Linked DNA regions of Homo sapiens: region 1 is linked to region 2. Evidence: fine-mapped QTL for protein levels in blood plasma. A gene starts in region 2. The other region holds a variant in brackets. All regions are shown on one strand. Distances are between the middles of the regions.

Region 1 (14,875 bases), 54 kb before region 2:
CCCTTGTCCCTAATCCCGTATTTTGAAGGTCTGTGACACGGGTGAATTGGGTGGTTGATGTAAACACAGAACAAGGCCGCAGGCGGGCTGCTCCTCTGTCAGCAGAAGGAACACTCGAGTTTCTGGAGGTGATGTCTTTGCCCCCTTGGTTCCTTGCTTGGCGAGATTGTTAGCTGATGTAGCCAGGGCTGAGAAACTCCACTCTGGCTTCTGAGGAGTTAACAGTCTGAGTTTGAAGCGTTTAATTCTGTGCTAGGATGTCTCCATAACCTGGAAATCGCTTGTCTGTGAAGCAGTTACAAGAGCCGGGCCCTGTGGGGAGCACCACTTAGCTTCATTCATTCACCGTCAGATACTGAGCTCGGCCTGCCTGTGTGTGGGCCCAGAACCTCGCCCTTTGTCAGAAACAGGTTCAGGGAGGCTGGTTCCCATCCCTGCTTTGCCTCTGTGACCTTGGCCTGTCGCCTGCCTGGGGTTCGATTTTCCATCAAAGGAGTGAATTGCACTAGGCGATCTCCAAGCCCAGAAATTCTCTCATTCTAGGAGTTAGGTAATGCTGTTTGACTTATGAATAGAAGTGTCTTAGGAAATGAGCTTCAATTCCTTTTCAATTAATTCGGCTTAACACATTCTTGACTTTAATAGGAAAATAAAAGATTGTGTCAGTATTTTGGCTTTTTCTGAAACCAAGGTGATTTATGGCCTAGTTTGGTTTAAAGCGTGTTTATAAAAATCATAACAGTATGTTGTATCATTCCTCCTTTCCTGTGGTTTCTATTGCGTTTGGGCTTCGTGTCTGTCGCGAGGTGGTTATGCATTGATTGGAATGCCCCGGTTCCAGCAAAGCTGAGTTAAAGCTCTCAACCTAAGGGAACGCAAAGGTTCATGGATTTTGGAGCTCAGGGTGACTATAGGCATTTTACTGGGAAGGAAACTTGTCCTGAGAAGTGGAGGGGCTGAACCAAGGTCACCCACCCCAGAAGTGCCCAGCCAGGATGCAGAGTGAACCCGACACCGGCCTGGGCACTTGCTTCCATGTCAGGCAGCTGCAGGCACCGGAGGGCTGCTCCCCAGAAGCCTGGAGTGCCAGGGCTGCCCTCGCTCAGCTGTGGAGCTGTGGCTGCCCCCTGTGCTGGGCACCGCCCTCCACTGCTCTCCCACACTCAGTGGCCTGACCTGGATTTCAGGTGGGTTTCTTTTTTTCACCTTGTACCTGTGTGGTCAGTATAGTGGACGAGAAGGAACTGAAAGGAGAAAATCAAGATGGACAACGTTAAGGCTAGGAATTATAACCTTGCCGCTTAAAAATGAGCTGTGCACAGGATAGGCGCTGCCCAGCTCTGTGCGGTTCACATGCAAGCTGCTGTGAGTGCATCTGCCCTCCCCCAGGGCTCCTGCTGAACCAAGCTGGCGGGTGTGCGTGTGGTTTGCAAAGCTATCACCTTTAGTCTGAGACCCACCATTGCCCCAGCGCTTTAGAGAAGCTGCACCGAGAGCTTCGGGAGCCGAGCCCCGAAGCCAGCCAATGCTTGGCCAGCATGGAGGCTATGATTAAACGCTAACGGGGCGCCCTTGGAAAGACCTCAGGGCTTTACAACTAAGGAAGAGGGCTCGATGCTGTCAACATTTGGCATGCCTACTCCTCTACTGAATCAAGCAGACCTTCATTTCCAACTTTGTAGACCATTGTGCCCTGTGGGTCGGCGTCTTTTCTAGGCAGGGACTTGTGATCACATAGACGTGTGTCTGATAAGAGGGGAGCGGGACGTCACACGCTGCAGGCGTGTCTTGTTGCAGAGGAGCTCCTGGGTGAGCTGTCAGCAGAAGCTCCGTCCCCAGCCACTCTGCTCAAGAAGGCTTAGTCAGAGATGGGTAACCTGAGCCACTGCAGCTTCTGAGCAGACAGAATCCGCAGGGTTTTATAAAAACCTGAGCAGAGCAGACATCCCTGTTCCCATCTTCTTGCCGGTCATTACCACAGTGACTCCCAATGTGCTCTGATAACAGGCAGCTGAGTGTATGAGAGTGACAGGAGCTAGAGAGGGTGGGGTCTCCCGAGAGACTGACCCAAGCCGTGGAGTCTGCAGACCCCAGCCTGAGTGTCAGCCCGGCCCTCAGGAGCCACACACCCTGGGTCCATCCTCTTCCCCTCGCTGGGCTGCAGTGGCCGCGGACTTTGCAAGTCAGTTTCATCTCAAGATCCAAGCACCATCACTGGCTGTTGGTTGCCTGGAGAATTGTGGGCAGGCAGATGTAGCAGAGTCAGGGCAGAACCCTTGACGGGTTCTCAGGGCCGCCGTGGACGGCAGGCACCGGACATTGCTAGCCGCCTACCAGACAGTGCAGTTTCTGGTTGTGCAGGCTCTGATACAAAGTTTTTTAAAACCCTCAAGTTATTTCCCAGTGGAAAAGAAGAAGGTGGGAAACAGCAGCTGAACGGGGTGGGGGCTGGCAAGGAGCAGATGCTGCCTCCACACGCACCGTCCGGTGCAGCTCCAGAGGAGGGCCGGGCAGAGCCACCACGTTTGCCGGGCTTACCCGGGCAGCAAAGAGCCCTTCTCCCATAGTGATCAACTGCTTAGCTTACAAGAGGAAAAATAAGGTGTGAGAGATGACATGTGAATATTAGTGGTCATTATTTGCCTTAAAATCTTCTTAACCCTAAAGAAACTGCTGCTGGTAACACCCCCCAGGCTCATGGCAGGCAGCTGGAGTGGGTGTTCTCTCAACAAGCCCAGATGGTGATGTTTGCTGATCATTCGGCATTTGATGCTATGTAAGGAAAGGATGCAAGGGAAGACAGTTTTATCCAAAACTTATTTTTTCCGAGTTAAATAAAAGTTACCGGCCAGGCGCAGCGACTCTCACATGTGTAATCCCAGCACTTTGGGAGGCTGAGGCAGGCGAGAGATGAGGTCACGCTATGTTGCCCAGGCTGGTCTCAAACTCCTGGACTCAAGCAATCCTCCCACCTCAGCCTCCCAACATTTGACATTGAACTCCTGACCTCCTCATCTCAGGTCAGGAGTTTGAGACCAGCCTGGCGAACCTGGCGAAACCCTGTCTCTACTAAAGAAAAAAAAAAGAAAAAAAAATTAGCCAGGTGTGGCGGCAGGCCCCTGTAGTCCCAGCACTCGGGAGGCTGAGGCAGGAGAATCACTTGAACCCAGGAGGCAGATGTTGTGGTGAACCAAGATCATACCACTGCACTCCAGCCTGGGCAACAAGAGTGAGACTCTGTCTCAAAATAAATAAATAGATAAAAATAAATAAATAAATGTCATCCATTTCATAGACTATTTGGGTAGGATTCAGCTGGAGAAAACAAACACCATAATCCCGCTCTACAGAGATGATCAGTCTGCCATTTTTCCTTCTTTTTTTCTCCTCTGCGCCAGACGATCTGCAGGAAGTCTTTTCCATCAATGAATTAAGATGCTGAATCAGAAATTTTTATTTTTGTTTTTCATATGACAAATAGTAAATCCACCACTGCTTGGCCAGAGTATGCGATTTCTTTTCCTGCCATGTTATGATATTAAGAACAGTTTTTTAAAAAATGTTTTTTAAATGAAGCTATCAAGATGGGGCTGCCAGAGCTGCCTTTCCTAGGTGCCTCTGAAAGCTGGCCTGGTGTAGCTGTACCACTCACCAGGAGTACAGCAGTCTCCCTAAAAAGTGGAGCAAATACATGTAGGAACCATGGAGAAGGAGGTACCTGCCAGCCAGAGAGAACACGGGACAGAGGCCGAAGTGGCCCGGAGGCCGCTGGGCGCAGCCTGCCCCTCTGCCGCTCCGCTGCGGGAGCCCCCGGGCCACGCTGGCAGCAGTCAGACAGGGCCGAGAGCTGAGAGAAGTCAGTTCTTCCAAAATTAAGATTTCTAAATGAAATATCTGTTTCATTTTTACGTTTTTAAAAACCATTTTGAAATATGTACAGAAAGGTTGCAGAATTAACACTCCTCACCCAGCTTCCCAAGTGCAGGCGTCTTCCCACGCTGCTTTCTCTGGCTGTGTAAGGGGCTCAGGGGTCCCTGTGTCCTTGTTGTGTCCTGTGTTCTGCGGTGGCCCCTCGTTCTCTGCTCTTATTGACCTTGACCATTGCGACAACACAGTTCAGTCACTTTGCAGCTGTGCCTCAGTCTGGCTCATGGGCCCTGGGGACCAGATATGGAGCATGTCCTCAGGCCTCAGCAGGAAGACCCATGGCATGCAGAGCCTCCTAGATCCTTAATCTGTGCCAGATGGGCATCAGGTGAGGGGCACAAGATTTTTGGATGGGCCCCTTTCCCAGGTTCCCATTTATTACCAGGGCTGGAGGATGAGCTGTTAGTGCATGAAAATCACTACAGAAGCTTGCCCAGGAGCTGCATGGGGTGCCGGCTCTCCGGACTTGTTTTCCTTTGCCCTGTTGAAAGTTGGGGTCCCAACGCTGGGCGCAGTGGCTCACGCCCGTAATCCCAACACTTTGAAAGGCCGAGGCGGGTGGATCATGAGGTAAGGAGTTCGAGACCAGCCTGGCCAATATGGTGAAACCCCGTCTCTACTAAAAATACAAAAATTAGCTGGGCATGGTGATGCACACCTGTACTCCCAGCTACTTGGAAGGCTGAAGCAGGAGAATCGCTTGAACACAGGAGGTAGAGCTTGCAGTGAGCCGAGATTGCAACGCTACTGCACTCCAGCCTGGGCAATTGAGGGAGACTCCGTCTCAAAAAAAAAAAAAAAGAAAAAAAAAGAAAACTGAGGTCCCGAGCTCCCCTTGTCACCCCAAGTATCTAGCCGCCACTAGGTCCTGGTGTTCTTTTGGCCTCAGGAGTTCTTTTTTTTTTTTTTTTTTTTTCTTTTTTGAGATGGAGTCTCGCTCTGTCACCCATGCTGGAGTACAGTGGCGCAATCTCGGCTCACTGCAAGCTCCACCTCCCAGGTTTATGCCATTCTTCTGCCTCAGCCTCCCGAGTAGCTGAGACTACAGGTGCCCGCCAACACGCCCGGCTAATTTTTTGTATTTTTAGTAGAGATGGGGTTTCACCGTGTTAGCCAGGATGGTCTCGATCTGCTGACCTCGTGATCCACCCATCTCGGCCTCCCAAAGTGCTGGGATTACAGGCATGAGCCATCGCGCCCGGCCAGCCTCAGGAGTTCTTTAATGTCCCCACTTTTCATCTCCTTTGCTGCCTTCTGCTTCCAGTCACCACCATCCCAGGGTCTCCCGGCCACTCCCACCGCCGCCACTTTGCCAGCCCAGAGAACCCTCACAAAGCATATCTGGTCTCTGAGTGCTAGGGTGAATTCCAGGCAGGGGGATTAGCTGATTGCTCTCCTGGGGCAGACTGGACATCTCAGGTGGTGATAACATGAGGGGATCTGAGTGACAAGGTGGGCCAGGACACTGGGTGGACAGAGTGAGGCTGTCTTCCCCAGGTGGCCCCCCACTGGGCCCACCTCTCACCAGCCTCATCTGCCTCTGGTCTTCTGGCTGCCCCCCATTCTGCAGACCTGCAGTTCCTGCCTCCTAGACCACCTGCCCCCACCCCTCCCTCGGGGTTTATCTGGCTAGTTCCCGTCTCTGCCGGATTCGCTGGTGTCTGCCTCCGCAGTGCACCTGCAGAGAAGCCCCCATCACCCACTCTGCCGCCCCTGCCTGGGGAGCTGGGCCCCCACCAGGCCTCTCTCCCGGCTTCCGCAAGTTAAGCTGCTCCCTGCCAACAAGGGGCCGGCACCCTTTGGTTCATTCAGCCTGAGCCTGTTGTTTCCTTTTCTCGGCACACCCGGAGATGCTGGCCATCTGTGTGTGTGGATAAAGGGAAGCCGGCTTTCCTCTGTCTCTGCACACATCTCACCAAACTGTGCAGTTCCGGAAGGTCAAGGACTGTCTCTTTGGAGCAGCCTTTCTGACAGAACGTTCTGGGATGATGGAAATGTTGTATTTGGTGCTGTCCACTTCAGTAGCTGCTGGCCACATAGGGCCGTTGAGCATTTTAGGCATGACTCATGGAACTGAGGAACTGGATTTTTAGTTGTATTTACTTGTTTCGGAGATGAGGTCTCGCCACGTTGCCCAGGCTGGTCTCAAACTTCTGGACCGAAGCAATCCTCCCATCTCAGCCTCCCGAATAGCTGGGACTACAGGCTCGTGCCACCATGCCCGGCTGTGTTTTATTTTAATTAATGTAAACATGTGGCCAGGGCTTCCATACTGGACAGTGTGGCTGTGGGCAGTCTAGCTGAGCTGCCTGGAAGCAAGGGCAGATGGTGAGTTACTCAGCTTCATGCAAGAAAGGAAGATGCTTAAAGGGTGGGTTTGTTTCCTGTTTAATGAACATTTTCCAGAAAGAGGGGAGATCCCGTAGCAGTGGGTTTCAGATACAGGAGACCAGACAGGAGAAAATATTGTGAGATGGGAAAGTGGATGCCAGCAACAGGAAACAGCAGAGAGGGGCTGAAGTTCTCGAAAGGCCAAGAAGAGCCTGGTGGGAAACCGCTCGCACCTCAGGACTGCCTGTGCTCAGGGCACAGGATCGACTTTTTCGCCTTGGGCTGCTTTTTGTTTTCTTTCTGTGGGTAACAATTTTATTGCAGTATCATTGACATACACTGAACTGTACATACTTAAAGAGTACAATTTGATGAGTTTTGAAATACGTATAAACACCAGAAGCCATCCCTGCAGTCCAAGCAGCGTAGACGCCCGGACCCCAGAGTTCCCTGTGTCCTATGTAATCCCCCTCCGACCCCTCCTTGCCCCACCTGTCCCCAGGTAACCACTGACCTGCCTTCAGTCACTGTAGGTTAATTTGCATCTTCTAGAGCTTTGCATAATGGCCTCCTGCAGTGCGTACGTGGTTTCCTCTGACATCTTCCACTCGGTACAGTGATTCGGGGACTCACCCAGGCTGTGTGTGTCCTTCCCCCATGGCCAAGCAGGGTCCCAGCAGTGCCGTTTGTCCATCCGCCTGCCTGCAGGGGAGCTGGGCGGCTTGTTTTTACGTAACCTTCACGCATGAGCGGTTTGTAAGCCCGCTCACCCCGTTGGCAGGGTGTTGGGCCAAGCACTGCTCTGGGGCAGGCTGGCAGTGAAACCCAGAGACTAGAATCCGCTTATGAGGGGGGTGCGTCTTTGCGGAGACCCTTAGAGCCCACAGCATCATTACTCTGGTGCATTTTCTTTTGAGCCACTGTTACGGCAAGAGATCCAGGGCGTGCCACGTGAAACGCGACAGGGCCTTTCCTCAAGACCTCTCCTCCGTGTGGTGCGTTTCTCACACAGGGTCTAGGACATTTCAATTCTTGTTATCAACAACCAGATTCAAAACTTGCCTTTTGTTAAAGTTTCGGGGGGCCCCTTCCTCCCCAGGCCTCTGGGGAGTTTGGGGCTCCTGTTCCCTAACCTTTCCTCAGCCAGCCTGCCCATCACCTTTCCTTCTCCCCAGGAAATGAATTCCCAGATATACGCACAGTCCCAGTGGGCCCTTGCACACGTGTGTCTCTATGTCCCTGCCTCGGGTTAGAGCATTCATGTTTTGAGAGCAGGGACCCTTTGGCTACTGAGAAGAGTGAACTGAGGCACGGTTAGCAGGCCTCTCGTTCAGTGGAACCAGAGGGAGTCGGAGGTTGGGGCTGATTAGGAAGTTTCAGAAGCCAATGTAAACTCCTAAGAATGCACCAGAGAATAAAAGTTTACTTGAGAATAATTTTTCCCAGGGAGATGTTTCATAGGATGGGACACTTAACTTGAGGTTTTGGTTTTATCTTCATTTTTCTTCCGCTGGTACCAACCATATAAATTTATATATATATTTCCCAATACAAATGTATATGTACTAGTAAGACAGATGGGAAATATATATATATCTATTTCCCATCTGTCTTACCCATTCTTGAAATCAGTTCGTATTCAACCAGTTGGGATTTGTTTTACGTGGACACTGAACCCAGCCATCCCTTTCACAGAACGTGAGGAAGCCTTGCTTTTCAACCTGGTTTTTGGAGTCCCGAGCTAGTGGCCAGCTCTCTCAGCCCCACACGTAATACCTGAATGGAGAAATGTCCTTCCCTCGACCCGTGTCCCGTCCAGCAGGCTTCAGGGGCAGCTTTGTAACTCCAGAGCCACCCCCTGCACGTCCTCTCTCTGCATTTTAGACCTAGGTGGCCAGGCAATTGTGGGAAATGGAAAGAGCTCTGACTGCCCCCTGCCAGCCCAGGGTAACCACAGCCATGCGAGGTCCCTGCCCGTACCTGGGAACTAGCCATGAAGGGCATCTGCCAGGCACGTGCCCGGCACCTGTCTGCCTGCTTAAGATAAAAGACCAAAAATGAGCGTTTTTCCTTTGGAAATTCATACTACACCCTCATTCCCAGGGAAGGAAATAAATTGATCGGTATTGCACAAGAACGAGATCTTTGATTCGTGTCAAGATTCGTTTCTAACCAACCAGCCAGAGCTGAATTGTTTCTCGCTGGTGAGCCTGGCCTAACAAACGTATGAGAGGAGAGGTTTGGATTTTTTTTTTTTTTGAGATGGAGTCTCACTCTGTCGCCTAGGCTGGAGTGCAATGGCGTGATCTCTACTCACTGCAAGCTCTGCCTCCCGGGTTCAAGCGATTCTGCCTCAGCCTCCTGAGTACCTGGGATCACAGGCGCCCACCACCACACCCAGCTGATTTTTTGTATTTTTAGTAGAGATGGGGTTTCACCATGTTCGCTAGGCTGGTCTTGAACTCCTGACCTCACGTGATCTGCCCACCTCAGCCTCCCAAAGTGCTGGGATTTCAGGCGGGAGCCACTGCACCGGCCGAGGTTTGGATTTAATGTATTACTTTACTCAGCAGGAAAGTGTCCATGGGTTGTGAAAGTTACCAAAAGCCTGTTGATCGCCCTGTGAAAGAACTTTCCTGGCCATTGCTCTGACATTCTGAGTCCAGAATACTGTCATCTTGATTTTATATTGGACATTAAAAGTCAGTCACTGCGTTAACTTTGTTTACATATAAAAGGAAGGATGATATCATTCTATGGAATACTGAAAAAACTGGCTTGGATTACTAGATTTTCGAAGACCCTATGCTCTCAGGTCATTTCTTTTTTTTTTTTTTTTTGAGACAGAGTCTCCCTCTGTCATGCAGTGGCGCGATCTCGGCTCACTGCAACCTCTGCCTCCTGAGTTCAAGAGATTCTCCTGCCTCAGCCTCCTGAGTAGCTGGGATTACAGGTACGCACCACCACGCCTGGCTAATTTTGGTATTTTTAGTAGAGATGGGGTTTCACACGTTGGTCAGGCTGGTCTCAAACTCCTGACCTCGTGATCCTCCCACCTCGGCCTCCCAAAATGCTGGGATTACAGGAGTAAGCCACTGTGCCCAGCCAGGTTATTTCAATATGTATCTTGAAATTCACCGAAAATGCTGGGCATGGTGGCTCACGGCTCTAATCCCAGCACTTTGGGAGGCTGAGGTGGGTGGATGACCTGAGGTTAGGAGTTTGAGACCAGCCTGGCCAACATGGCGAAACCCCGTATCTACCAAAAATACAAAAATTAGCCAGGTATGACCAGGCGCAGTGGTTCACGCCTGTAATCCCAACACTTTGGGAGGCTGAGGCAGGCGGATCACGAGGTCAAGGAGATCGAGACCATCCTGGCTAACACAGTGAAGTCCCATCTTTACTAAAAATAAAAAAAATTAGCCGCGTGTGGTGGTGGGCGCCTGTGATCCCATCTACTCAGGATGCTGAGGCAGGAGAAACAGTTGAACCTGGGAGGCAGAGGTTGCAGTAAGCTGAGATTGTGCTACTGCACTCCAGCCTGGGCAACAGAGCGAGATGCCGTCTCAAAAAAAAATAAAATAAAAATTAGCCAGGTGTGGTGGTGGGTGCCTATAATCCTAGCTACTCAGGAGACTGGGAGGCTGAGGCAAGAGAATCACTTGAACCCAGGAGGCGGAGGTTGCAGTGAGCCAAGATCGTGCCACTGCATTCCAGCCTGGGTGACGGAGTAAAACTCCATCTCAAAAAAAAAAAAAAAAAAAGAAAGAAAGAAATTCACCAAAAAGCAAATTCTGAAAACATAAGTTGAATTTAATTTTCAAGCAGAGCCCTTTGGTCGTGGGAGGGATGGGGAAGTACATCTTAAAAACATGTCTAAAAAGGGAATCCTGTGGCATATTGGTACCTAGATGTGAGAGTTGTTTCGTGTCTCGACTGAGGAACGACACCCATGTTTTCCTTCATTTTGTAATCTCAAGTCATTGCTCCTTGGGATGCTCAAAGGTGACCCATAGGTGGCCTCTCATGTCCAGATGCCACACAGCATTTCACTAGACTCGGTTAGATAGGTGGTCGTGTCAAATACACGCTGCCCTGCAGCATGGATCACGAGCACGTGTACAGAAACCTTTCACTTTGCTATTGTCACACCTTCAGTAGGTCTCTGGGACCAAGATACTACCGTGCTGTATTCTGGGTAGTTCTTTTATTTTTTTATAATCTAGTACTATGCAGGCCCATTCAAAAAAAATGCTGATAGTTAAAACTTTATTTTTCTCAGCTCCGTTTATATTTTGTAATCGTGCTTTATAGACTTAAATTCATCTCTATTCCCCAAGTCCCCACCACTGAAAATTCTTGGTTCTCTTTTTTTTTTTGAGATGGAGTCTCGCTCTATCGCCCAGGCTGGAGTGCAGTGGCACGATCTCAGCTCACTGCAAGCTCCGCCTCCCAGGTTCCTGCCATTCTCCTGCCTCAGCCTCCTGAGTAGCTGGGACTACAGGCGCCCGCCACCACACCCGGCTAATCTTTTTTGTATTTTTAGTAGAGATGGGGTTTCACCTTGTTAGCCAGGATGGTCTC[G/A]ATCTCCTGACCTCAAGGTTCGCCCGCCTCGGACTCCCAAAGTGCTGGGATTACAGGTGTGAGCCACCAAGCCCGGCTGAAAATTCTTGGTTCTCTTAAATCAGAAGTAAATGATTTTTTTTTTTTTGAAGCAGAGTTTCACTCTTGTCACTCGGGCTGGAGTGCAATGTCATGGCCTCGGCTCACTGCAACCTCTGCCTCCCGTGTTCAAGAGATTCTCCTGCCTCAGCCTCCTGAGTAGCTGGGATTACAGGCATGCATCACCATGCCTGGCTAATTTTGTATTTTTAGTAGAGACGGGGTTTCACCAAGTTGGCCAGGCTGCTCTGGAACTCCTGACCTCAGGTGATCCCCCCACCTCGGCCTCCTAAAGTGCTGGGATTACAGGCATGAGTCACCGCGCCCGGCTAATGATCTTTAAATAAAAATATTTTCTAGGCCGGGTACGGTGGCTCTCGCCTGTAATACCAGCACTTTGGGAACCCAAGGCAGGCAGATTCCTTGAGGTCAGGAGTTCAAGAGCAGCCTGGCCAACATGGTGAAACCCTGTCTCTACTAAGAATACAAAAATTAGCCGGGCATGGTGGTGGGCACCTGTAATCCCAGCTAGTCAGAGGCCGAGGCAGGAGAATCGCTTGAACCTGGGAGATGGAGGTTGCAGTGAGCCAAGATCGCACCACTGCACACCAGCCTGGGCAACAGAACCATCTCAAAAAAAAAAAAAAGAATGTTCCAGCATCCACCCCCAGAAGCCCCATCAGAGGACTCTTCACTTCCTCAAGATGAGTTTTCTCTCACCCCAAGTCTAGCCCTAGCATCTTCTCACTGAAAACGACTCAACATTAGGGGCTGGGCGAGGTGGCTCACGCCTGTAGTGCCTGTGGTTCAGGAGGCTGTGGCAGGAGGATTGCTTGAGCCCAGTAGGTAGGTCAAGGCTGTAGTGAGCCTTGGTCATGCTGCTGTACTCCAGTCTGGATAACAGAGCAAGACCCCGTCTCAAGCAATCTTCCTGCCTCAGCCTCCCAAGTAGCTGGGACTATGGGCATGCAACACTGTGCCCAGCTAATTATTTTTTGTAGAGGTAAGGTCTTGTTATATTGCCCAGGCTGGGCTCGAACTCTTGGCCTCAAGTGACACTCCTGCCTCAGCAACCCAAAGTGCTGGGATTACAGCTGTGAGCCACTGTGCCCAGCCTGAGACCCAATCTTTAAAAAGAAAAAAAAAAAATGGCCCCTTCCTAAGGGACAGAGACCTGGTGCTTTCAGACAGGTGAAATGCATAACCAAAAAATAAATATGTATGTCGGTGATTCAAAATGATTCTCAAATCAATCTAGAAGGAGAAATTAGGAATAACCAGGAAAATGTTGAAAAGGAAGATGTAAGAGGGAGAGCAGATATTAGATACTAGAAAGTACCATAACACCACAACACCAGTTTAAAAACCTGTGGTGCTGGCTCAGAAACAGACTAAAATGTAGCCAGGCACAGTGGCTCATGCCTGTAATCCCAATACTCTGGGAGGCTGAGGGGGGATCGCTTGAGCCCAGGAGTTTGAGATCAGCCTGGGTAACATAGGGAGACCCCATCTCTACAAAAAAAAAAAAAAAAAAACCACAAAAATTAGCCCAATGTGGTGGCACGTGCCTGTGGGCCCAGCTACTCAGGAGACTGAGATGGGAGGATCGCTTGAGCCCGCGAGGTCAAGGCTGCAGTGGGTGACAGAGGGAGACCCTGTCCCCAAAAAATTGAAAAATAAAAGTAAAAGAAAAAAAGCCTCAAAAACAAACCAAAAAGTATAAAAGAAAGAAATGTTGAGAGTTCTACAAAAGGGCACTGTCCCACTTTTTAGGGGGAAGTGTAAGTTGGGACACCCTCTGAAGAGTCACTTAGCAGTGCATGACCGCAGCCTCAGAGAGCAGGAAGCCAGCAGGTGAATATACAAAGACGTGTGTGCACACAGCTTTTGTTTGTTTGTTTTTCTTTTGAGATGGAATCTCGCTCTTGTTGCCCAGGCTGGAGTGCAATGGCGCAATCTTGGCTCACTGCAACCTGGGTTCAAGCAATTCTCCTGCCTCAGCCTCCTGAGTAGCTGGGATTACAGGCGCACGCCACCACGCCCAGCTGATTTTTTGTGTTTTTAGTAGAGATGGGGTTTCACCGTGTTGGCCAGGCTGGTCTTGAACTCCTGACCTCAGGTGATCCACCCGCCTTGGCCTCCCAAAGTGCTGGGATTACAGGCATGAGCCACCGTGCCCGGCCAGCTTTTTATAGTAGCAAACATTTTAAAGCAACCTGAAAGTCCATAAAGAGATAATGGATTGAGCAAACTGTGCTCTACACACACACTCCCAGCAGAACACACACCTGCCAAAAATGGAAGTGGTCGAGTACGCCTGTTGGTGTTGAAAGGCATTTCAGTATAAATCAGTGAATAAATCAGGTTACAAAACACTGTGTACAAGATGATCGTACATCTGCTCTACACACACACATACAAATCCAGAAGCACGTCACACAATTTTAACCGACCCTATAGACCGAGACTCATAATTTAAAATTTTTTCTGTTTTTACCTAACACTGATTTTCCTGCAGAAACATACATTGTTTATATAATTATTTTCATTTTTTATATAACAGGAAATAAACTTACCTACTTTAAAAAATATCCAGGCCAGGCCGGGTGCAGCGGCTCACGCCTGTAATCCCAGCACTTTGGGAGGCAGAAGCAGGCGGATCACGAGGTCAGGGGATCAAGACCATCCTGGCTAACACGGTGAAACCCCGTTTCTACTAAAAATACAAAGAATTAGCTGGGCGTGGTGGTGGGTGCCTGTAATCCCAGCTACTTGGGAGGCTGAGGCAGGAGAATTGCTTGCACCCAGGGGGCGGAGGTTGCAGTGAGCTGAGTCATGTCATTGCACTCCAACCTAGGCAACAAGAGCAAAACTTTGTCTCAAAAAAAAAAAAAACAAAACAAGGCTGGGCATGGGGGCTCATGCCTGTAATCCCAGCACTTGGGAAGGCCGAGGCGGGTGGATCACCTAAGGTCAAGAGTTTGAGACCAGCGTGACCAACATGGAAAACACCATCTCTACTAAAAATACATTAGCTGGATGTGGTGGCGCATGCCTGTAATCCCAACTACTCGGGAGGCTGAGGCAGGAGAATCACTTGAACCCGGGAGGCGGAGGTTGCGGTGAGCTGAGATCGTGCCATTGCACTCTATCTCAAAAAAAAAAAAAAAAAAATCCTTTGCTCATGCCTGTAATCCCAGCACTTTGGAAGGCCAAGGCAGGAGGATTGCTTGAGCCCAGGAGTTTGAGACCAGCCTGGGCAATATAGTGAGATCCTATCTCTACAAAACCTTTTTTTTTAGAGAGAGGATCTCACTGTCATCTGGGAGTGCAGTGGTGCCAGCCTCAGGGCTCACTGCAGCCCCGACCTCCTGGGGTCACTGCAGCACCGACCTCCTGGGCTCAGGTGATCCTCCCACCACAGCCTCCCAGCTCACTGGAACTACAGGCACATGCCATCGTGTCCAGCTAATTTTTTTGTAGAGACGGAATTTCACCATGTTGCATCTAACTCCTGGAGTCAATCAATCCACTCGCCTCGGCCTCCCAAAGTACTGGGATTACAGGCATGAGCCACCGCTCCGGGCCTATAAAAACTTTGTTTTTTCGTTTTGTTTTGTTTTGTTTTGTTTTTGGAGACTGAGTCTTGCTCTGTCGCCCAGGCTGGAGTGCAGTGGCGTGATCTCAGCTCCCTGCAACCTCCGCCTCCCGGGTTCAAGTGATTCTCCTGCCTCGCCCTCCCGAGTAGCTGGGACTACAGGCGCCCGCCACCACGCCCAGCTAATTTTTTTTATTTTTAGTAGAAACGGGGTTTCACCATGTTAGCCAGGAAGGTCTCCATCTCCTGACCTCGTCATCCCCCCCGCCTCGGCCTCCCAGAGTGCTGGGATTACAGGCGTGAGCCACCGCACCCAGACAACTTTTTGTTAAAAATTCTTATCAGTCGATTAAT
Region 2 (8,027 bases):
AAGAGCGCCCACACGTCTCCCGAGAAGAAGAAGGTGAGCATGGCCGAGGCCACCGGGCACCCTCCCTGGCTTAGTCTCAGGACAGCTCAGCTGCAGAGCATGCTGGGAGTGAGACACAGGACAGCTGGGGACAGCACCCGGAAGCAGGGCAGCGCAGGGGCTCCTAGACTGCGGGAAGCAGTGTCTTCCCTCACCAGGACTGAGCCGCCTTCTGGGTTTTCAGTTTTCACCCCCCAGGTGGCCTGGAGTGGGCCTGCACTGGGCTGCAGGGGTCAGGCAGGCAGCAGGCACAGAGGAGCCCAGGAGCGGCAGAGCTTGCCTCCCAGTGGTGGGAGGCTTAGTTTTATGCCCAGCTTGGGCCTCTTGGAGCTCAGGGGCCTCTTCTGTGGAGGCGAAACCGTGTCTGTGAGTGCTTTAGAGTGCAGTCCTGAGTCCGCATTGTTCTGGTCCTGGGGGAGGACAGCCATGTCCCCTCAAGCTGTAGTCAAGGCTGGATCCTGACAGATTCTGGGAGCCCCATGGCCCTGTGCTGCCACCGGGTAGCCTCAAGCTCGGGCTCTGACCTTGATCCCGTGCCCTGAAACAGGCCAAGGAGCTCCCTGAAATGGACGCCACCTCCAGCCGGGTGTGGATCCTGACCAGCACCCTGACCACCAGCAAGGTGGTGATCATCGACGCCAACCAGCCGGGCACGGTGGTGGACCAGTTCACCGTCTGCAACGCGCACGTGCTGTGCATCTCCAGCATCCCCGGTGAGCAGCTGGAGTGGGCGTTTCCACTCGGGCGCCACTCCCTTTTACTAGCAAGCTAAGTAAAAGCCCTGCCACACAGCAGCTGCCTTCTCGGGGTGTCCTGTGGACACGGGAATGTGGCAGTGGACGGTGGGAGGGGCAGCACCCAGTCAAGTGAGGCCCTGGGCCCTGTTTCTGGGAGGAAGCTCGCGGCAGCCTCGGCCTCTTCTCCCTACCTACTCAGGACCCCACGCTTACCTGGTTAGAGGGTGACGGGTGGGCACGGCCTGCAGCTTGAAGCATCACTCGGAGACCACAGGAAAACATTTCCTCATGCTGAATGTGAAACCTCCAGTTGGGCCGAAGGGGCTATGGGGGTGTGGGTGAGGAGCTTCGTGTCACCCCTGTGGGCAGTAGCCTTGGTGATGTTCTGGGCCAGCCCCAACACTGGGAGGACGAAGGGGTGCCGAGGGCTCTGCCAGGTCTCTGGTGTGAAACCACAGGGCCGTCTGGGGTCCTGAGGGTCTGCCACAGGATCACAGGTTGTTTGCTCCCAGAACCAGAGTCTTACTACTCAGCTCCCCTTGGCCCAGGGGCCTACCCAACAGAGCAGGCTTGCTGGAGTCCCAGACCTCCAGGCAGAGGGTCGTGGGTGGGCTGTGGGTGGAGCATGTGTGGAAGCTGGGTCTGCTGGGAAAGTGGAAGGCCAGCCCCGGCTTCCTCTGCCCCTGTGTAAGTGCTGGGCACGCCCTTGCAGTAGTGGGTTCCCCCGCACAGGCTGACGGGCCGTCCCTCTCCCCAGCGGCCAGCGACAGCGACTACCCTCCCGGGGAGATGTTCCTGGACAGCGACGTGAACCCAGAGGACCCGGGCGCAGATGGCGTGCTGGCCGGTATCACCCTGGTGGGCTGTGCCACCCGCTGCAACGTGCCGCGGAGCAACTGCTCCTCCCGAGGGGACACCCCAGTGCTAGACAAGGGGCAGGGTGAGTCCTGGGCGAGTTTCCCCCATCCCCTCATTCCCACGTTTCTGCCCAGCCCAAGCTCACCTCTCCTAACACAGGGGAGGTGGCCACCATCGCCAACGGGAAGGTCAACCCGTCCCAGTCCACAGAGGAGGCCACAGAGGCCACGGAGGTGCCAGACCCTGGGCCCAGCGAGCCAGAGACAGCCACATTGCGGCCCGGGCCTCTCACAGAGCACGTCTTCACTGACCCAGCCCCGACCCCGTCCTCTGGCCCCCAGCCTGGCAGGTGAGCTCTTGGGCTGGGGCAGGAGCAGAGGGAAGGCTTGCAGAGGTGGGAAGGGCCTCGGGGTCTTGGGGCAGGTGCGTGCTCCGTGGCCCCCCCTGGAGCCACCGTTCTTCCTGCAGCGAGAACGGGCCAGAGCCTGACAGCAGCAGCACACGGCCAGAGCCAGAGCCCAGCGGGGACCCCACGGGAGCAGGCAGCAGTGCTGCACCCACCATGTGGCTGGGAGCCCAGAACGGCTGGTAGGAAGGGCCCGGGGCAAGGTGGAGGGAGGGTCCTGGGTGAGCCCCTCGCCCATCGCCGCTTCCTTCCCTAGGCTCTATGTGCACTCGGCTGTGGCCAACTGGAAGAAGTGCCTGCACTCCATCAAGCTGAAGGATTCTGTGCTGAGCCTGGTGTGGGTGACCCCAGACCGAGGGCCGGGCGGCGCGGGGGAACGGGGCGGAGGGGGCTGGCACAGCCTGGCCCAAACCAGGCTCACCGCATTCCTGTTTCAGGCATGTCAAAGGCCGTGTGCTGGTGGCTCTGGCGGACGGGACCCTGGCCATCTTCCACCGTGGTGAAGGTGGGGCCTGGCAGCACGGGGTGTGTGGGTGGCAGCTGATGGCCCTGGCATTGTTTAGCCAAGGGGCTCCCGGGGTTCCAGGCCTCTCCTTAGTCTGGCAGTGGGTGTCTCAACCCGATGCCCTGAGCAGAGGTGGGGCCTGGCCAGGCCTGAGCAGGTGTCCGGGGCTCCCTCCAGATGGCCAGTGGGATCTGAGCAACTATCACCTAATGGACCTGGGCCACCCGCACCACTCCATCCGCTGCATGGCTGTTGTGTACGACCGCGTGTGGTGTGGCTACAAGAACAAGGTGCACGTCATCCAGCCCAAGACCATGCAGATAGAGGCGAGTGCCGGCCAGGGCCCCGGGGAGGGGAAGAGGCTCCTGCTGGCCAGCAGCTCTCCCGCATCTTCCATACGGAAGTCCACGAGGCCCTACGTGGGTCCCATCTCCCCTGTACCACCTATGACTCAGGCTCGAACAGGCGCAAAGCAGGCGCTGGCTGGGAGGTCTGAGGGGACTGCAGGTGGCCCTGGAGCTGTGGCAGGTTTGGGGCTCCCCACTTCCTCTCCTCTCCCCAGCCCTGTTGATGGGCAGCCATGACTCCACAGAAGTCATTTGACGCCCACCCGCGGCGGGAGAGCCAGGTGCGGCAGCTGGCGTGGATCGGCGATGGCGTATGGGTGTCCATCCGCCTGGACTCCACCCTGAGGCTCTACCATGCACACACGCACCAGCATCTACAGGACGTGGACATTGAGCCCTACGTCAGCAAGATGCTAGGTGAGGGGCCACGCCAGATGGGGTGGTGGGGTGCTCAAGGCCAGCCACCCTGACCGCTCTCCCCCACAGGCACTGGCAAGCTGGGTTTCTCCTTCGTACGCATCACGGCCCTGCTTGTCGCGGGCAGCCGGCTCTGGGTGGGCACCGGCAACGGAGTGGTCATCTCCATCCCCCTGACAGAGAGTGAGTGGCCTGCACACCTGCAGGGGCAGTGGTGCTGCCAGAGGTGTACGTGGGTTCACGGGGTGGCTCTGCAGGGCCACCTTGGAGGGTGCCTTGCTGCCCCTACGCTGACCGCTCTCCTCTTCTCCCATGCTCCTCCCATGTCCCCAGCTGTGGTCCTGCACCGAGGCCAGCTCCTGGGGCTCCGAGGTAAGCCCAGCCACCTCGTGTCCCCTCACGGGAGCCTCTCCCACTCTCCACCTGTATGCGGGCTCAGCGCCTCTGGGTTCTCTCCCTGCAGCCAATAAGACATCCCCCACCTCTGGGGAGGGCGCCCGTCCCGGGGGCATCATCCACGTGTATGGCGATGACAGCAGTGACAGGGCGGCCAGCAGCTTCATCCCCTACTGCTCCATGGCCCAGGCCCAGCTATGCTTCCATGGGCACCGCGATGCCGTGAAGTTCTTTGTCTCGGTGCCAGGTGAGGCTGGGCCCCTCCTGCCATCCACATCCCCTGCATGCCAGTGGCCGCCGCCTCCCCCAGGAGGCCGCTGTCCTGAATCGCTTCTGCCATCCCAGGGAACGTGCTGGCCACCCTGAATGGGAGTGTGCTGGACAGCCCAGCCGAGGGCCCTGGGCCAGCTGCCCCTGCCTCGGAGGTCGAGGGCCAGAAGCTGCGGAACGTGCTGGTGCTGAGCGGCGGGGAGGGCTACATCGACTTCCGCATTGGTGAGCGGGGCCCAGGGACAGGGCTGAGGTTGGGCGCGGGGGGAGCCTGGCCGTCACTCTGCTGCTTTGCCCGCAGGAGACGGAGAGGACGACGAGACGGAGGAGGGCGCAGGGGACATGAGCCAGGTGAAGCCCGTGCTGTCCAAGGCAGAGCGCAGTCACATCATCGTGTGGCAGGTGTCCTACACCCCCGAGTGAAGCTGCTGCCCTGCCTGGCCCGACCTGTACATAGGACCCCCGACCACCTGACCCCCGCCCGGCCCGCGGGGTAGCCAGCCAGGCGCCGCCGCCCCTCTTCTAACCTCTCAACCTGCAGCTTTCACCTGAGTCTGGCCCCTCCAGCGGGCAGGGAGTGCGGGGATGCGGATCAGCTGGGAGGAGGAGGGGAGGGGAACTTCCACCCGAGGGGAAGATGCTCTCGGGACAGTTTCCCGGGCAGCTCCTGGCCAGCTTCCAGCCCAGAGTCCTCAAGTCCAGGGCACCTTGGGCCCAGCGCAGGCAGAATCCGAGGTGGTCCTGGCTCTACCCTGGGCCTCCTACTCCCCAGCACCCCTGGAGGAGGCAGGGGCTCCCCGCCGCCGAGGCTGCCTGCCCTGGGCCCACCTCTGCATGCTGCTCATGGGGCCACCCTGCCTCCTGGGCCCTCACTCTGCCTAGGGGAGCTGGGCCAGGCACTAGCCTTTGCCCAGGGAGGTGGGCCTCAGGCTGCCCAGGTGCCTGCACCCCAGCCGGCCTTCTCTGGGGCCTCCCCGTCGTCAAGCCTCTATCCTGTCTGTCCCCACCCCAGCTGTCCCCTGCCCAGGGAGCTGGCATAAAAGCACGAGGCCCGGCTCCCTGGGGCAGCTGCTTGAGAACAGAGACTGCTACCCCATCCTGCCCATGCAGGCAGGCTCTTGCCAGCCCCGTTCTGACCCGTGTCCCCCCAGGCTCTGCCTGGGCAGAAGACTCACCTTGGAGGAGTGGGCCCTGGAGTCCTGTCCCTCCCAGAAGCCCCCAGGGTGGGATTTCTCAGGCTGCCAGGGCAGGCCCAGGCCTCAGGAAGAAGGGGAGGCCCCTGGCCTCTCCGGGATCAGTCCTAGGACACAGGCTCAGCCTCAGGTTGATGGGGGATGATGTGCTCCCGGGGCCTGCCTCCTGCACGGGGCTCCACGGAGCCCAGCTCCCAGACACGCTACTAAGTGCCTAGGGTTGCCCGCTGTGGCCTGCTTCCAGGGAGCAACAGAGAGGCCACCAAGCAGAGGCCCGTGGGGCTGAGGATGGAGCCGCCCCCAGCCGACTCCAAGCCCGCAGAGGGCAGACGCCACCCTGGACTGCTCTCCCTGCCCAGCTGGGCCTCTCTGGCCTATTCCTACCTTCCAGGCCCACTGCACTCCTGTCTGGGAGGCCCTTATGAGGGCAGCCCAGCCCCCGCACCCACCCCCAACCAGAGAAGCACAGATCTTGGGGAGCTGCCCCACAAGCCCCGCTGGCCACCGAGGGCTGCAGCCGCTGCGCTGCCGGCTTCTCCCCACCACCCTGCCACCTCCACTGTGATGTATGTCCGCTCCCTCGTCTGTTCCCCCAGGATCTCGAAGTGACTCCGGGCTGAGCAGTGGGGCGGCTGGGGGAGGGGTGACGATTCTCCTCAGGCTTTGGCCCTGCAAGCAAACCCACATATCTGCTCTGTATGTAATAAATGTCTTAACGTCGTAGCTGCCTGTTCCTGGGCCCAAATCGAAACGAAAACGAGGACTTTATTATAAAAAAACGTTGGACCACGTTGGGCTGGGCACCAGGACAGTGTCCTGGCACGTTTCCAGGCGAGCCGCGCAGGCTCCTGGAGCAGCTCCTCGGGCAGGAAACCCTGTACGCCAGGGATTGGAGAGGCCTGCGCCACCCTCCATGCAACGTCCAGACAGGTGGATGTTCAGCAGCCCGTCCAAAGGGATGCTCCAAGCGCTGTGGGGTGGGGCCAGAAGCCCGCCCACCTGGGCCCTGGAGGAGGCTGGAGTGTGAGAGCCTCTGTGACGCGCATCTGCCGGGCTACTCATACAGCCAGTGCCCAGCGCTGTCCTCCCAGCAGAGGAGCTCGTCTGCGCGGAACCAGAGAGCGATCTCGCGGCGGGCACTCTCCACCGAGTCGCTGCCGTGAATCAGGTTCCTGCGCGGAAGAGGCGCGTGTGAGCGTGGGAAAGAGACCTCCGGCACGGGTACCACGCAGGCTGAACAGGGGGAGGCCGGACGGGGCTGGGACCGTCCCCGGGGCGGGCCTTACTTGCCAACCTCGATGCAGAAATCCCCGCGGATGGTGCCGGGCGGGGCGTCGGCCGGGTTCGTGGCTCCGATGAGCGCCCGCGAGGTGCGCACCACGTCCAGCCCCTGCCATACCTGTGCGGAGGAACGGGCGCGGTATCACGCGGGGGTGGGGGTCCCGGAGCCGCCCGCCCGCTTCCCGGATACTCACCATGGCCACCACCGGCCCGGAGGCCATATACTTGACAAGGCGGCCGTAGAACGGGCGTTCACGCAGCTCGGCGTAGTGCTCACGCAGCAGCTCCTCGGAGGCCTGCGGAAGGGTCAGGCCGCCTGCGCCCGCACCCGGCACCTAGGCGTCCCCAGGTCCCCGCTCCCCTTCCCCCCACACCGCGCCCCCGCTCGCTCACCGCGCCCCCACCTGCACCAGCTTCAGCGCCACCAACTTGAAGCCCTTCCTCTCGAAGCGCCGCACAATCTCGCCCACCAGCCGCCGCTGCACGCCGTCCGGCTTCACGGCCAGGAAGGTGCGTTCGTGTGCGCCGGTGCAGGCTGCGGGGCAGGCGGGGACGGGCCGTCAGGCCGGCCCAGCACCGGCCACCCGCCCCCGGCCCGCGCCGCGCGGCTCACCCGCGGGGAAGAGGTTAGCGAAGATGGTCAGCACCAGGCAGATCATGATGGCGGTGCGGGAGCGGGATCCGCGGGGCGGGGCGGTGGCGCCCGGGGCGGGGCCTGCGCTTAAAGAGGCCTGGTCGGGGCGCTGCGGCCTCCGCGGGGAGGCTGCTTCACTTGCACCCCGGAACCCGGCAGCCGTGGGGGGCCGGAGGGCAGCTGCGGAGGCCAAGTCTCCTCCAGCAGCTCGGACACTAACTGTATCCCCCACAACCCGCCCAGGTGGTTCCACCCACGCGGCGCCCTGCTCCGCACCGCCCGAACCCCGCCCCCCCCGCGCCCCCCCGGCCAGGGCCACGACCACAGCGTCAGCCCTTCTCTCCCCGGTCCTAAAGACAGAGCGCAAAGACACCACGACCCTGGGTACTTCTTTTCTCTTTATTCCCTTTCATAGCTTCTGCCGGGATCCAGGCAGAGAGAGCACTAATGGGGGAAAGGGAGCGAGCGCTTCCCGCTTTCCCCAGCGTGGGCCCTCGGAGTTGGGTGTGGGGGCAGCAGGGCCAGAGGAAAGGCACAGGTGGCGATTTGCCCCAGCCCTCCCCCCTAAGATGCAGACCCTCAGAACACGTCGCGGAAGGTGAGCTCCCTGCTCCGAGAGGCAGACTCGGGTGTAACGCAAAGACGGTTTCTTTCATCAATAAGGTCCCCACTGCCTCACAGCCCCTAAGGCCACCCGCTGGTTCTGGCATTCTAGACGGGGGTGCCCTTGGCCCTTCCTTTGTCTTCCTGTTTTGCAGGGTAATCCCAGGGTTCCATGCGTATCCTCTGCACATTCAGCATGGGCTCCTCGGTGCTTGTGTCTCCATTTTTCTGTCGTTCTGCGATAATCATGGCCCGGAGGAGAGGCGGGTACGGCACGGAGGCCAGGCTGTCTTCCGGCGCCGGCGTGAACGCGGTGAAGGCCTCCTCCTCGTGCTTGGGCA

Direction of the effects. Positions count from the first base shown, and alleles are read on the strand shown. Strength reflects both the effect of a copy and how common the allele is.
For the plasma level of the protein whose gene starts at base 7,117 in region 2, allele G in region 1 goes with a lower level than allele A (strong association).

Evidence for each region. PIP is the posterior inclusion probability: the model's chance that the variant is causal. Protein levels are from antibody-based Olink assays in UK Biobank. Linkage for the fine-mapping came from a reference panel and not from the study's own genotypes, which makes the PIPs less certain.
Region 1: its variant is fine-mapped to the plasma level of the NME3 protein (UK Biobank, PIP above 0.99).

What each region holds. Positions count from the first base shown.
Region 1 is chr16:1,707,230-1,722,104 of GRCh38, forward strand. The region is part of intron 1 of MAPK8IP3 (mitogen-activated protein kinase 8 interacting protein 3); the gene reads left to right. It overlaps MAPK8IP3-AS1 (MAPK8IP3 antisense RNA 1), which reads right to left and starts at 6,962. Exons shown (of 2, transcript NR_184234.1): 1 at 6,773-6,962; 2 at 6,300-6,558. RefSeq lists enhancers at 6,709-6,758, 11,487-11,656, 12,897-13,016. The variant G/A (reference allele first, on the strand shown) is at 10,846.
Region 2 is chr16:1,764,427-1,772,453 of GRCh38, forward strand. NME3 (NME/NM23 nucleoside diphosphate kinase 3) reads right to left here and starts at 7,117. Exons shown (of 5, transcript NM_002513.3): 1 at 7,063-7,117; 2 at 6,854-6,984; 3 at 6,644-6,745; 4 at 6,455-6,567; 5 at 5,894-6,340. The coding sequence starts at 7,108. The coding sequence ends at 6,223. MAPK8IP3 (mitogen-activated protein kinase 8 interacting protein 3) reads left to right here. Exons shown (of 32, transcript NM_001318852.2): 19 at 1-33; 20 at 587-752; 21 at 1,534-1,716; 22 at 1,794-1,983; 23 at 2,103-2,222; 24 at 2,297-2,377; 25 at 2,478-2,545; 26 at 2,723-2,871; 27 at 3,138-3,309; 28 at 3,379-3,492; 29 at 3,643-3,681; 30 at 3,773-3,952; 31 at 4,051-4,200; 32 at 4,277-5,925. The coding sequence ends at 4,398. MRPS34 (mitochondrial ribosomal protein S34) reads right to left here. Exons shown (of 3, transcript NM_023936.2): 3 at 7,469-8,027. The coding sequence ends at 7,795. RefSeq lists enhancers at 1-415, 4,193-4,242, 7,753-7,842 and silencers at 6,353-6,552, 6,863-7,452.